Linked DNA regions of Homo sapiens. The protein of the gene in region 2 binds, or shares a complex with, the protein of the main gene of each other region. Links are inferred from orthologs where the notes say so. Each region holds a gene or a part of one and is shown on either strand. Other genes may lie near its edges.

Evidence for each region.
Region 1: the proteins of VTI1A (region 2) and STX12 are in contact, whole or in part, in a crystal structure (PDB 2NPS), measured with the Rattus norvegicus proteins. The link is inferred for Homo sapiens from one-to-one orthologs. Residues at the interface, in XP_038945999.1 of Rattus norvegicus: Arg131, Arg134, Ser135, Arg138, Leu139, Ala141, Gly142, Ile145, Ala146, Glu148, Thr149, Ile152, Gly153, Met156, Asn159, Leu160, Asp163, Arg166, Arg169, Ala170, Arg173, Leu174, Glu176, Thr177, Asn180, Leu181, Lys183, Ser184, Ile187, Leu188; in NP_075228.2 of Rattus norvegicus: Glu185, Ile188, Gln189, Leu191, Glu192, Ile195, Leu196, Val198, Asn199, Phe202, Lys203, Leu205, Ala206, Ile209, His210, Gly213, Ile216, Asp217, Glu220, Val223, Glu224, Ser226, Glu227, Val230, Glu231, Ala233, Ser234, Asp235, Leu237, Gln238.

Annotation. Positions count from the first base shown.
Region 1 is NC_000001.11:27,769,372-27,776,237, forward strand, and holds the start of STX12 (syntaxin-12), read left to right. Parts: upstream 1-3,847; 5' UTR 3,848-3,936; coding exon 3,937-4,054; intron 4,055-6,866. UniProt on the Homo sapiens protein: SNARE promoting fusion of transport vesicles with target membranes. Together with SNARE STX6, promotes movement of vesicles from endosomes to the cell membrane, and may therefore function in the endocytic recycling pathway.
Region 2 is NC_000010.11:112,450,195-112,457,219, reverse strand, and holds part of VTI1A (vesicle transport through interaction with t-SNAREs homolog 1A), read right to left. Parts: exon of another isoform or gene 6,494-7,025; intron 1-6,493. UniProt on the Homo sapiens protein: V-SNARE that mediates vesicle transport pathways through interactions with t-SNAREs on the target membrane. These interactions are proposed to mediate aspects of the specificity of vesicle trafficking and to promote fusion of the lipid bilayers.

The sequences.
Region 1 (6,866 bases), on a different chromosome or scaffold from region 2:
AGCTGGACATGGTGGCGCATGCCCATATTCACAGCTACTTGGGAGGATGAGGCAGGAGAATTGCTTGAATCACGAGGTGGAGGTTGCAGTGAGCCAAGATCGTGCCACTGCACTCCAGCCTGGGCGACAGAGTGAGACTCCATCTCAAAAAAAAAAAAAAATCAGTAAGTAACTTCCAGTGATGAGGGAAATGGATTAAAAAGGAGCATAAGTCAAGGAAACTTTCTGGGGTGATGATAAAAATGTTTTATCTCTTGATTTGGGTGTGGCAGTTACATGGATGTGTACAAGTGTCAAAATCCATTGAGCTGAACACTTACTATCTGTGCATTCGATTGTATATCAATTATAACTCAATAAAAATTAAATGTAAGGGCTGGGTGTCATAGCTCACTCCTGTAATCCCAGCACTTTGGGAGGCCGAGGTGGGTGAATTGCTTGAGCCCAGGAGTTTGAGACCAGCCTGGGCAACATGGCAAGACCACATCTCAACAAAAAAATACAAAAATTAGCCAGGTGTGGTGGTGCGTGCCTGTAGTCCCAGCTACTTGGAGGCCTGAGGTAGGAAGATGGCTTGAGCCAGGGAGATTGAGGCTGCAGTGAGTCGAGATCACGCCACTGCACTCCAGCCTGTCTCCGAAAAAAAAAAACAAAAAGTAAATAAGTATAGAAAAATGCTGCTTGGTCCTAAAAATGCTCCTATGAACTATACCTGATTTTTGGAACACGCATAGTTGGGTATATAGTTAGGAGTAGAATTGCTGGGTCAGAAGGTGCATGGGAATCCTGGCTCTGTCACTTAACAGCTGTATGACATTAGGCAAGTACCCAGAATCTCTAGTTTCTTTATCCGTACCAAGGAGCTAATATCGCCTTGATGGGTGCAAACCCATGAAGACTACTTTCGTTAATTAACAAAAGTATGTAGAGCTGAGAGACATTTTCTCTAAAGCCATAGATTTTTAGAAAATTTGTTGCTCAAATTATCAGTAAGAATGGAATATATCACTCTTACCTGGAGGATCAGTTACTTTGATGCAGAAGAGCAGCCTCAATTTCTAACGCAGGTGCAGAGCTTCAGATAAGGGGTTTCCAGACACAACATTCCACATTTATCTTGGCATCATGGTTTCCAAGGAAACAGGATCTTGTTAGCTGGGGCCTGATGATAATCCCTTTACACATAGCCTGGTGTGTTTGGGGGCTATCAAAACACTGCTTCTTTAAAAATTTATCTACATTTCTTTCCCCCAAATCCTGGAATAACTCACTGTCTTCCTGTGTTTTGTGACATGCTCCATGATTCTTTTGGTGTGCAGTTTCCCTTGCAGCAGCAAGTTAATAAACTTAACTTTGTCTGACTACAGGTGGTCTTTATCAGATGGGCTTTATCTTGGAGATTACTGATAACGTACACAAAATGTGTTCATACTGCCTGGCACCTAACAGGCATTTAAGCAATGATAAAATTATTATTTTTATTATTCATGTGTTAATTCAATAAATGTTTGTTTGACATCCAGTATTTGCAAGGCACAGATTTACTGCTATGAGAGATGCTCACTGCAACCTCTGCCTCCCTGGCTTAAGCTACACTCCTGCCTCAGCCTCCCGAGTAGCTGGGACTACAGGCTCAGGCCACTATGCCCAGCTAATTTTTGTATTTTTGGTAGAGATAGGGTTTTGCCATTTTGCCCAGGCTGGTCTCGAACTCCTGAGCTCAAGCAATGATCAGCCTGCCTCAGCCTCCCAAAGTGCTGGAATTCCAGTTGTGAGCCACCGCGCCCAGCCTAAAAACCACTTTTATTTTACATGGAGAAAGAAAACAATATTTTTAATTCCTAAAAGAAAAATATCTTTACTGAACTTCACTTTAAATAGTGTCAAATGTAAATGAAAAAAATCATCAGTACTATTATATAGGTAAAAAAGTGCAATTTACATGACTTGCTTAAGATTTGACATAAAACTACAGATTCTAAGAAACGGTAAGGTTTTATAATAATAACCAAAACAGGCTGGGTGCGGTGGCTCACGCCTGTAATCCCAACACTTTGGGAAGCCGAGGCGGGTGGATCACCTGAGGTCAGGAGTTCGAGACCAGCCTGGCCAACATGGTCAAACCCCATCTCTACTAAAAATACAAAAAGTACCCGGGCGTGGTGGTACACGCCTGTAATCCCAGCTACTCGGGAGGCTGAGGCAGGAGAATCGCTTGAACCCAGGAGGCGGAGGTTGCATTGAGCCGAGATTGCGCCATTGCACTCCAGCCTGGGCAACAGAGCAAGATTCTGTCTCAAAAATAAAATAAAATAAAATAACCAAAATAAGAGTCCCCAAATGTCATCCGTCTCTTTCTAGAGACAGGGAAAAAAAATGCTCTCATAAATTCTCCAACGAAAAATAGAGATAGTCACCCTTAAAAAATCCTAAGGCTGGTGGGTGGATTGCTTGAGCCCAGGAGTTTGAGACCAGCCTGGACAACATGGCCAAACCCCAACACTACAAAAAATATAAAAATTAGCTGGGCGTGGTGGCGCACGCCTGTAATCCTAGCTACTCAGAGGTTAGGTGGTAGGACCTCCTGAGCCCAGGAGAAGGAGGATGCAGTGAGCAGAGATCGCGCCACTGCACTCCAACCTGCGTGACAGAGCGGGACCCTGTCTCAAAAAAAATAAAATAAAGAAAAAATCCTAAGGCCATATACAGGCTCATTCACTTTGGGTCTCCTTTCATCCAGGCAAGCAGCTTTCTGTCTTTGCATTTTCCAAAGACTACAAAGCAGGCTGGGGTGGGGTGGGGTGGGGTGTAGAACACAGGAAACGCAGCCAGTTCCCCTTCACTTCTCACTATCTTGATCTCCTCCCAAACCAAAATCCTATGTCTTTCCTTTTAACATAGGCTTACAAAAATGCAGTTTTCTGTGGGAACATTGAGGTCATGCATTCCAAATTACTTAAGGGAACGATTTTTAAATTTTAGGAATCTAGTTCTCCAAGATATCCCGGCTTGGGATATAGATGAACGAGCTATTTGGGAGAGATTTAGACGAGAATGAATTTTAGAGAAGTAGCGAGGTGAGGAGAGAGTCAGCTTAGCGTTTGGGTTTTGCAGTCAAATTTCAGCAAGGCGAACTAACCTCGCTGGTCTTAATTTTCTCATCGGTAAGAGGGAAAATAATAATGCTTACTTTGATGAATTACTTTACTTCAACATTTAAAAAACCGACTCTCCGTTATCTATTCTAATGATAAAAATATAGATAGAGCATCGTCCCCTGCTGTGAAAAATCTTATGAACAAGTGAATTGCGGTGAGGATTCACATAGTATGTGCTCAATAAACATTATTTTATTGTTTAGATTAGAAGAGGGGTGGAGGGAGAAATGAAAGTGGTTTGGAAACCCCAAACACTACCAAAGCCCTGGGGATGGAAGTAGAGAGGAATTTCGGGTTACGATTTGGTTCCGGGTCTGAGTTTCAACGTTGAATTCTCCCATATTTGGGCCTGAATTCTCAGAACAGAATAGGATGTAAGGGCTGAGATCATCTGGTACAGTTTTATGCAAATCGAAAATTCTTGCCTCTTGTCACTGTGCCCTGGCGAGAAACAACACCTCCACCCAAGCTCATCCAATCTCAGCCCCAACTAGGTGACGTCATCTCCCCGCCCTGCATCCCCAAGCCTCGGGGAGTCCTGTCTCTAAGCTACAGTCCCAGCTCCAGTCCCAGCTCCAGTCCCAGCGGCGCCTGCGCACTTTGGACCGGGGCGGGGAGGACGCGTGCGCGCCGCGTGAGGGCGGGGCTAGTGCGCACGCAGCCTTAGCTCCTTCCCCGCCCTTGCTCTTCCCAGTTTCTCCGTCAGCCTGCGGGTCCCGGCTGGCGGCTGCTTCCGGTAGGAGAGCGGTGTAGAGCGAGCAGGTCTCAGCTCCTCGTCATGTCATACGGTCCCTTAGACATGTACCGGAACCCGGGGCCCTCGGGGCCCCAGCTCCGGGACTTCAGCAGCATCATCCAGACGTGCAGCGGCAACATCCAGCGGATCAGCCAAGCCAGTGAGCCGGGGTACCGAGCTGGGGGGCGGGAGCTGTCCCGGGGACAGGCCTGGGTGAGGCTGCCGGGACGCAGGGCCCGGCTGGGGCTACGGCCGAGGCCACACCTGGGGCTGTCTCGGGCTGTCCACCCTGGGGGCGGTGGGCTGCCATCCCCCAATCTGTCAGGCCCGGGTTGCCCGAGGGTCCCCGGCCCCAGCTGAAGCTTGAGCTGCTTCTCTGGAGTTCTGCCCCCACGGTGCTGGGACCAAAACAGCCGACTTGACAGCCCGAGGGTGGGAAGGGGAGTGTGTGTCACCTCGAGAGCTGTGAGTGCGTTGACTTGGCGCAGTGGTCAGCCGAGTTTCTCCTGTCACCCACCTTCCTCCCCACCCACCTCGCTTTCCTCTTAGACCAGTTTGGATGGGGTTGTTTACTGATTTAGCCTTTAGGTTTACATTCTGCTCAGCCCCTGGCTCCTCGGAAATCAGCAACTTTCAATTAAGGGAAGTGGAGAGTGCATGTGTTTGGGTGACTTCATACACAGTTCTTCCTGTAATGAATTCGGAAATCAGACACAATGACTGGTATTTGAAAGGTGGGATGACTTCATTTTAATAAAGAGAATTCACCAACAGCATTTCAATTTACATTATTTTGTCTTTTGTAACAAATAATTGGGGTGTATTTTTGGATTTCAGGCAGATGAGGCTTTTGTTTTCCTTCCCTACTTAGCTGCTCTTGAACAAATCTGGTACACAGGGAAGCTAAGACACTTAGCCACAACCACATAGCAAGTAAGGCATGGTAGAGTTGTTGGTGGAATTCAGAATGCTATTGCTTGTCTTAAAACTCCCTCCTCCCCATTAGGGTCTGAGTGAAACTGTAGCTGAATGAGTCAAATACAGGGTGTTTCTTGTGCTTGAAAATCATCTTGGAGCCTTATAAACAGGAGATCAGCAGCAGCTTTACTTGGAAAGAATGGTGGTCATCATCCTTGTTGTTTATTATTGTTTTGTGAGCTTGGCGTACTCTGTTAATAGGTAGAACTAGTTAGTCCTGAATTACAATTATATTCTATATTTTAAAGAGTGTCACTTTGCTTTCGTTTTTAAACTTTTAAAAATTTTTCTTTTTTGTAGAGATGAAGTCTTGCTATGTTGGCCAGGCTGGTCTCAAACCCCTGGGCACAAGCACTTCTCCCACTTTAGCCTCCCAAAGTGCTGGGATTACAGGCGTGAGCCACTGTGCCTAGCCTAATTTTTTTGATTTAAAATATTTTTAATTTATTTTTTCGAGACAGAGTCTACTTCTGTCACCCAGGCAGAATGCAGTGATCTGAGTGAAGTGGTACAATCCTAGCTCACTATAACCTTGAATTCCTGATCAGCTTGCTGAGTAGCAAGGACTACAAGGATGCATCTACCGTGCCAGGCTAATTTTTAAATTTTTTGTAGGGATGGGGTCTCACTATGTTGCCCAGGCTCACTTTGCTTTTAAATCTAAATGTATATTGTAGAATTTGAGAAGTAGAAAGTTTCTGATCAAAAGGGATTGAGACTCTGGAAGTGAAAGGAAGAATATGTGGCCTGTTAAAATCCAGAAGTAAAAAAAATTAATATGACCACTGGTTAGAAAGTATAGTACTGTTTGTTCCAGTTTCCTTTTGTGAAGGAGCTGTAATACAGGTTAGATCAGAAAATTCTAGTTCAAGGCTGAAATTTTCTTGTTGAAGCTAAATCTAATTTTAATATCTATTTGCGAAATATTCATTCAACATGTATCCATCTATCCATCTTCGTGTGTATTTTATATATATATAAAACCAGAATACTCCCAAAGGTAGATCCGACATACAGTTTTAAATTTAAATTTAAATTTTTATTTTGAGACAGGGTCTCACTCTGTCACCCAGGCTGGTATGCAGTGGCATGATCTCAGCTCACTGCAGCCTCAACCTCCCTGGCTCAAGCAGTCCTCCTGCCTCAGCCCTACAAGTAGCTGGGACTACAGGTGTGCACCACCACGCCCGGCTAATTTTTATATTTTTTGTAGAGATGGAGTTTCACCATGTTGTCCAGTCTGGTCTTGAACTCCTGTGCTCAAGTGATCCACCCACCTTGGCCTCCGAATAGGCCAGGATTACAGGCATGAATCATCATGCCTGGCCTTCAACATATATTTATTTGAGTATGTAGTAAGTATAAGAACTGGCATGGATCTTTCAACAGGGAACCTGCAGAGTTCATAACCAAAATATAAAGTTGAAAGGGATTGGTGCTATAGAAGACATATAAATAACATGCAGGTATTCTGGGAAGAGAGAGATTGTTTTTAATTGAGAAGGCATTATGGCATTTGAGTTATGTCTGGAAAGAGGATGGAAAGATTTGGACCTTCGAAGGTAAAGAGGAGAAGAGCATTCCAGGAGGGAATAAAATGAACAGGCATCATAGTGGGGAAGCATAGAGTATATCTAGAAGAGTAATTTAATTTGGCTAGAGTGGTGGATTCCAGAAAGTAGTGGGAAAAAAGGATTGAAAGGTAAATTGTGGCCCAAACATGAAGGATGTTAAATGCTAAGCTAAGGGGCTTGGATTTAGTTATTTAGGAAAGTGCGAATTGAATTCAAAGGGAGAGACTGGAATCAGAGATACCAGTTAGGGCTGTGAAAATGAAAAGAAAGGAAAGGATAGGAGAGGTTTCCTTGGTGATAGAATTGGTAAGATTTAGCTATTGATTGGGCATTGGGCCTCAGGGGATCATTTAAGTCAACTGTTAGTAATATTAATAGCTAACATTTGAGTACATACTGTGTTCCAGGCAGTATGAAAAG
Region 2 (7,025 bases):
TTGGCTTTGGTGGGTCAGTTGAGCTTAGCAGTTAAGGTCCTCGACATTTCAGAGCCGAGCATCCTTTCCAACTTTATTTCCAACTACAAGGTTTCTAGTATGCAGTCTACAGACAGACTGTTCATTGCTACCCAAACAAATCTTGTTTTTTTCTTCTCTAAATCTTTGTTAAGCTACCATTTAGGGTTCTTTGGCTGAATGCGACAGAAGTGATTCTGGCTAAACTAATTCAAAAAAGATAATTTGTTAGAATAATGTGGGGTGGCTCATAGGATCAATGGACAAAAATGAGCCACCCAGCTTGGGAAAGACAAGTATGAGGAGTAGCTCAGGATACCAAGGAAATAGGAACTTACAGTCTCTGCTAAAGCAAAGTCTTGAGCGGCTCTAACTATTCTCTTTCCTTGGTTCATTCTGATCAAATTCCTGGCAAAAATTCTATAAATGTCCTTGCTTAGGTAATATGTTCACCTCTTGACCTACAGAGGGCAGGGCAGCCTGTCAGTTCTATCAAGACTGGAATAAGGGGGTTTAAGTAGTTCCTCAATAGGAAATTGAGTAGATAGAATGAAAGCTGCTGGGTGCAACAGATGCCCACTGCATCCATTTATTGCAACCTCTTATAATATAGTCTTTGCTTGTTTCTGTCTGTCCAAACCCCACCTATCCTTCTAGGCGAGGTCCTGAGACATACCTCATTTCCTTTGAATTCCTAGAGTTCTATGCTCGGCTCTAGGGGGTACAACGGTCATTAAAAATTAGGTTCTACAGTTTCCTCTTTTTTTTTTTTTTTTTTTTGAGATGGACTCTCACTTTGTCACCCAGCCTGGAGTGCAGTGGTGCAATCTTGGCTCACGGCAACCTCCACCTCCCAGGTTCAAGTGGTTCTCCTGCTGCAGCCTCCCGAGTAGCTAGGACTACAGGCATGCGCCACCACACACAGCTAATTTTTGTATTATATTAGTAGAATGAGGTTTCACCATGTTGGTCAGGGTCATCTCAAACTCCTGACCTCAAGTGATCCACCTGCCTCGGCCTCCCAAAGTGCTGGGATTACAGGTGTGAGCCACTGCACCTGGCCTGCAGTTTCCTCTTCAGGCTCATTGCCGGCTCCTTGAAGGCAGAGACTACTCTTGACAAATCGTGTCCAAACTCTGTATTTAGCATAGAGAGCTGTACATGGTAGGGGCCACTAAGTGCTTACAGAATAAATGAGTCAGTCTTAGCACGCAGCAACATACTTATTACTCACAGAGAAACTGAGGGGGAAAAACAGCTCATTTTAGTGAGGACTGGGGCAAATCTTCCCATTTGAAATGACAAATTTCCCTTCACGAAAAAAATAATTAAATTGGAATAGAGGTGGAGTTAACACAATTAGATCATTTTCTTTTCATAAAATTCATTTTGTGATGGTGCTGTCAGAAATAATGATGGAACTGAGACATTCTTTGATTGGTCCTTATAGTGTTCCTCATGTTTTTAAGAAGGCAAATCTCAAAAGTGATGATTTAGGGGTAAAGTATGAGGAAGGAAGGAAGGAAGGAAGGAAGGGAGGAAGGGAGGGAGGGGAGAAGGAGGGAAGGAACAAAGGAAGGAGGGAAAGAACAAAGCAAGGTGAGAAGGAGGGCGGGAGGAAGGGAGGGAGCAGAGAAGGAAGGAAGGAAGGAAAGGGAAGTGAAGGGAAGGAACAAAGGAAGGAAAGGAACAAAGGAAGGAGAGAAGGAGGGAGGGAGGGAGGAAGGAAGGAGGGAAGGAGGGAAGGAGGGAAGGAGGGAAGGAGGGAAGAAGGGAAGGGGGAAGGGGGGAAGGGGGAAAGGGGGGAAGGAGGGAAGGAGGGAAGAAGGGAAGAAGGGAAGGGGGAAGGGGGAAGGGGGAAGGGGGGAAGGAGGGAAGGAGGAGCGGAGGGGAGTGGAGGAGGGGAGGGGAGGGGGAGGGGAGGGGAGGAGGGGAGGGGAGGGGAGGGGAGGGGAGGGGAGGAGGGGAGGGGAGGTGAGGGGAGGGGGGAGGGGAGGGGAGGGGGGAGGTGAGGGGAGGAGGGGAGGGGAGGAGGGGAGGAGGGAAGGGGAGGGAACTGAACTAGATGACCTTGGAAATACCTACCAACACGAAGTTTTGGTAACCTGGCAACATTTACATGTAATTCCCAAAAGAGATTCATTCTGCCCACCCCAAATGACATCCCCTTTCAAACAACATGTACCTAGGATTCAGACCTTTGTAACTAAGGGCTATCATTAATGTACATGGTGCTCTGTGTTTAACATTGTTATAGTCAATCCTTAAAACAACCTTTTTGAGGTATTATTACTATCCCTTTCTCAAGCCATTAAATAAGATCAGAGATACTAAATTATTTCCTGAAAGTTCAACAACTAATAAATAGCAGAGTTGGAACTCTAATGGGGTGGGTCTGTTGTCCTGAACTGAGCTCGTAACTGCTATATGTATTATATAAAATATACTATTTAATATATAAACAGTCTCCCACTTTTTTTTTTTTTTTTGGTCTATAAGCTTGATAAGTGCTGATGTACATACACATAAGTCTTAGCATAGTATGTATGATCTTTTCTTTCCTACTCAATACATTTTTAATTAGTTTTCTTTTTCATTTAGAGACAAGATCTCGCTCTGTCACCCAGGCTAGAGTGCAGTGGCATGATCATAGCTCACTGTAACCTCAAACTCCTGGGTTCAAGGTGTCCTCCCATCTCAGCCTCCTGAGTAGCTGGGATGACAGGTGCGTGCCACTATGCCCAGCTAGTTTTAAATTCAATTTTATTTTGTAGAGATGGGGCTTCACTATGTTGCCCAGGCTGATCTTGAGCTCCTGGGCTCAAGTGATCCTCCCATCTTGGCCTCTCATTTCCTACTCAATAGAAGTTCTTAGTGCTGACGTACAAACAAGTCTTTGCATAGTATAATTCTTGATATTTACAGAAGTGCTTAATCAGCACAGAACACCCTCATTAAAGTGTCAAGGCTCACTTGAATTCAGTTACTTGTACCTGTCTTTGTGCAATGTAGATATGTTAAAATAAAACTAGCAGCAGAAATTATGTATGTACTTAGAAATGTAGGGTCAAACCACTAAGAGAGGAACAGATAATTTTTAAATGGGTATATTACTGATGCTACCCTGTGTAACATGGTATAGAATGGTCAGTGTTGAAATAAAGCAATTACAGAATGATCCATCTGATAATGGATTAGAGCTGGAGATACTAGTATGAACTTGTGTTTAACATACTATATATACAAATGATTACATATGCAAATGCTTGTAGATATGTTCATATACATGGCTTAGTATATACATGTGAATTTCCTTGCTTTGTCAGCTGAGAGGTTCCAGAGGCAACAACACCCCGGGAGTAATGTGCACACCTACTGTCCAGATCTTGGTTTCTAATACCCTTCTTTAATTAAAGGAAACAGGATTCCTCAGAGAAAGGGCTGATTCTAGCACTGAAACAGGAAATAGAGAAGATGATCCTGGAGTATCTTATACTATCAGAAAGCAATATAGTCCTTAAAAAAAAGAAAAGAAAAAAGCCAAAATGATGGGGGTATACCAAAAGGACACAGAAGCCAAATTAAAAAAAAGGCTCCCAATGGTCAACGCTAAAACAATTTGAGCAACATGAAAATAAAGTAGTATTGGAATATAACACAAAGGATAAAATAGGTATCTATGAGTCCATACTGATGTAAATGACTGAATAAGTAAATAAATGAATAGATAAATCTCTCTTACATAAAAGAATTACAAATAATTCACGTAATTACTTGGCTTCAAGGAGGTAGAGTGTAACTCTCCACTCCTTAAGTATAGGCTATGCATATATGATTTTCTTCCAAATAGTATGGAAAAGGGAGGGAAACAGTAACTTTACAGTGGAGAAACCTGGCAAACACTACCTCAGCCACGTGATAAAGGTTAACATCAGTAGTGATAAGTCATGTTGACAGTATGTATTCTTGGTATGTGGTGAAAATGATGCTTTACTTCTGTGGTCCTCCTCCCCAAAACCCAGAACTCCAATCTAATCATGAGAAAAACATTGAGCAAATCCCAGTTGAGGGAACCTTCTAGAAAATATCTGACCAGTACTCTTCTAAACTGTAAAGTCATCAGAAACAAGGACAGTTTGAGAAACTGTCATAGCCATGAGGGGCCTAAAAATCCATGAGTACTAAATGTTTTACAGTGTCCCAGATTGGATCCTGGAATAGTTAAAGGACATTAGGTAAAAAGAACAAACAGAACAAAACGAAATCTGAATAAAGTATGACCTTTAGTTAATAATAATGTATCAATATGGGCTCACTAGCTGTAACAAATGTACCATATTAACATGATGTTAATCACAGAGAAAACTGGGCATGGGGTATATGGGATTCTCCGTACTATCTTTGTGATTTTTCTGTAAATTTCAGACTGTTCTAAAATAAAAAGTTTATTTAAAAAAAAAAAACAAAAACAAAAGACTGAAGCCATTACTTAGGTTGACTAAATTGACCAATATATAGACAACATACAGATATATAGATCTATAGATGCATACACACACACAATTGTTTATATGAATGTATATTATTCAAAGATGAATACAACCCCATAAAAGCTTAATTTTTTTTTTTTTTTTTGAGACAGAGTCTCACTGTGTCACTAGGCTGGAGTGCAGTGGCGCAATCTTGGCTCACTGCAACCTCTGACTCCCTGGTTCAAGTAATTCTCCTGCCTCAGCCTCCTGAGTAGCTAGGATTAGAGGCACGTGCCACTACACCCAGCTAATTTTTGTATTTCTAGTAGAGACGGGGTTTCTCCATGTTGGCCAGGATGGTCTCGATTTCCTGAGCTCGTGATCTGCCCGCCTTGGCCTCCCAAAGTGCTGAGATTACAGTGTGAGCCACCGCGCCCGGCCCTAAATGCTTAAATTTTTTATGAGACATAACTGGGCCATCAGTAACTGCTAAAGACTATCTTCCCTGTATGCTCAATTGAAAAAGCTGGACCTTGCCCAGCAGCTCATGAAGCAGATTTTGAGGTAGCCTGAATCCTAACAAGGAACAAACTATTGTAGCAGTGAGTTCCTGAATCAGGACTGGAACCATCCCTTCAACTGTAACCCTCTAGAGCAACAGAAATATAATGCAAGTCACACATGCAATTTTAAATTTTCTTGTAGCAGTATTTTTTAAAGTTTTCAAAAATAAAAAACTTTTAAGAGAAACAAGTGAAATTAGTTTTAATAATGTTTTTAATTTCAATAATACGTAATTGCATATATCTAAAATATTATCATTTCACAATGTAGCAACAGCCACATTTCAGGTGCTCAATAGCTACACGTAGATATTACAGCTCTAAAGCCAAATATATTTTAAGCAAACCACAATATTCATGAACAAAAGCCAACTTTTCTGAATTATCTCACTGCAACCACCTTGCAAAGGCAAGAGAGAATCACAGAAGTATGTTTATGCCTTCATCTACACGTGGCTAAGTCTAGATGGTCTAGACAATCCTCCAGGGCTTGGCATAACCAATCCACTAGACTCAGGCATTTCCTTCCAGAAAGGACACCTGCCTTGTCCGACACCACTTTCACTTCTCTCCTCCGACTGCCCCCCTTGGGATCCTGAGTTCAAAGCCCAGTTCCAAATTCATATCCAAAAGGCCCTAATCACTTACCTCCTTTCAAATGTGTTCATCAAGAGAAATTTACCTAATTCTAGTCTAGGAACAGAAAGGAAGCAAGAATTGAAGTGTAAGATTTAAGAGTTCAATTAACATGACAAAGTCTGAAGAGCGGGGTCCTAGCTAATCTTACCAACTGTTGTCTTCAGCAGCAGCAGTAATATCATTAATGGCTAGTATATCACGTGTTTTCTCTGTGTAAGAAGGGTGCTAGTGTGTTACATGTTTTATTTCACTGATTTTTACATTATAAGGTTGAAATTATTACTCTCTCACCCCCATTCTACCGATGGAGGAGACAGGCCTAGAAAGGCCAAGCAATTGTCCATGACTGCACATCTAGTAAGTAGCAGAACTAGGGTTCTAAACAGATCTGATGTCATGTCTGAATCTGAATCATTTTGCTGTAATACTTTCTTGGTACAATTCTGAGGACAGCCATAAAGTGACAGGATTCACAACAGATCATTCCCTCTCTGTGAATGGTAAAGTAAGCAACTAATTGCAAAAAGACTACTTTAAAATTCTTCAGGAAGCCTATTTCGTGTAACAGAATCTTTGCACCAGAGGAAAACATTCCCCACTTAAGAATTCACTCCCATCACTAGAGGAAAAGGAACTTCACAATAAAGTACTAACTGTATAGTTTCTGCTCATCCCTTTTCCTTACTTTCCCACAGAACCATAATAATTAAAAAAACAATGTTCAAATATAGTGCCATAGGGTATTAAGAAAGAACTCACCCATCTCAGTTCAATTACTAAAATTAGTTAAGATTCAAACACTTTAAGAGCAAAATCTCTTTATTGTTTAAAAAATATCACAGAGTAATCAGATTTCTTTCTTAAAATAAAATTTTTAAATGTTCACTCTTCTGTTCTCTTTGGAAGCAATACTTTAATACATTGTAACATGCACAGCAGAGTAAAGTTCATTTCAATAGATCTACCCACTCTACTTGAATTTAAGTAAGTTACTATGTTGGGGGAATTAACTGCTTTGGCTGGAAAGTTTGCTCCAATTTTTATCCTTCTTAACTCAAGTAAATTATAGTTCACCTCCTCTGGGTCACTTTTAGCTCAACACTGCACTCGCCAATGATGGCCAGAGAGAGAGATTATAATTACTTGTCATCAAACTATTTTTGCCATGGTTATATATATTAATGTCTGTTCATCTACAGACATACATCTGAAATTCATAACTACATGGATATATTTTTCATCTTTTTCTATACATCAATTGGAAATAGATTTAAAAAGGGGCAAGCACAAGTCATTATTAAGAGGGCAACTACTGCGTTTTTAAGAATTATGA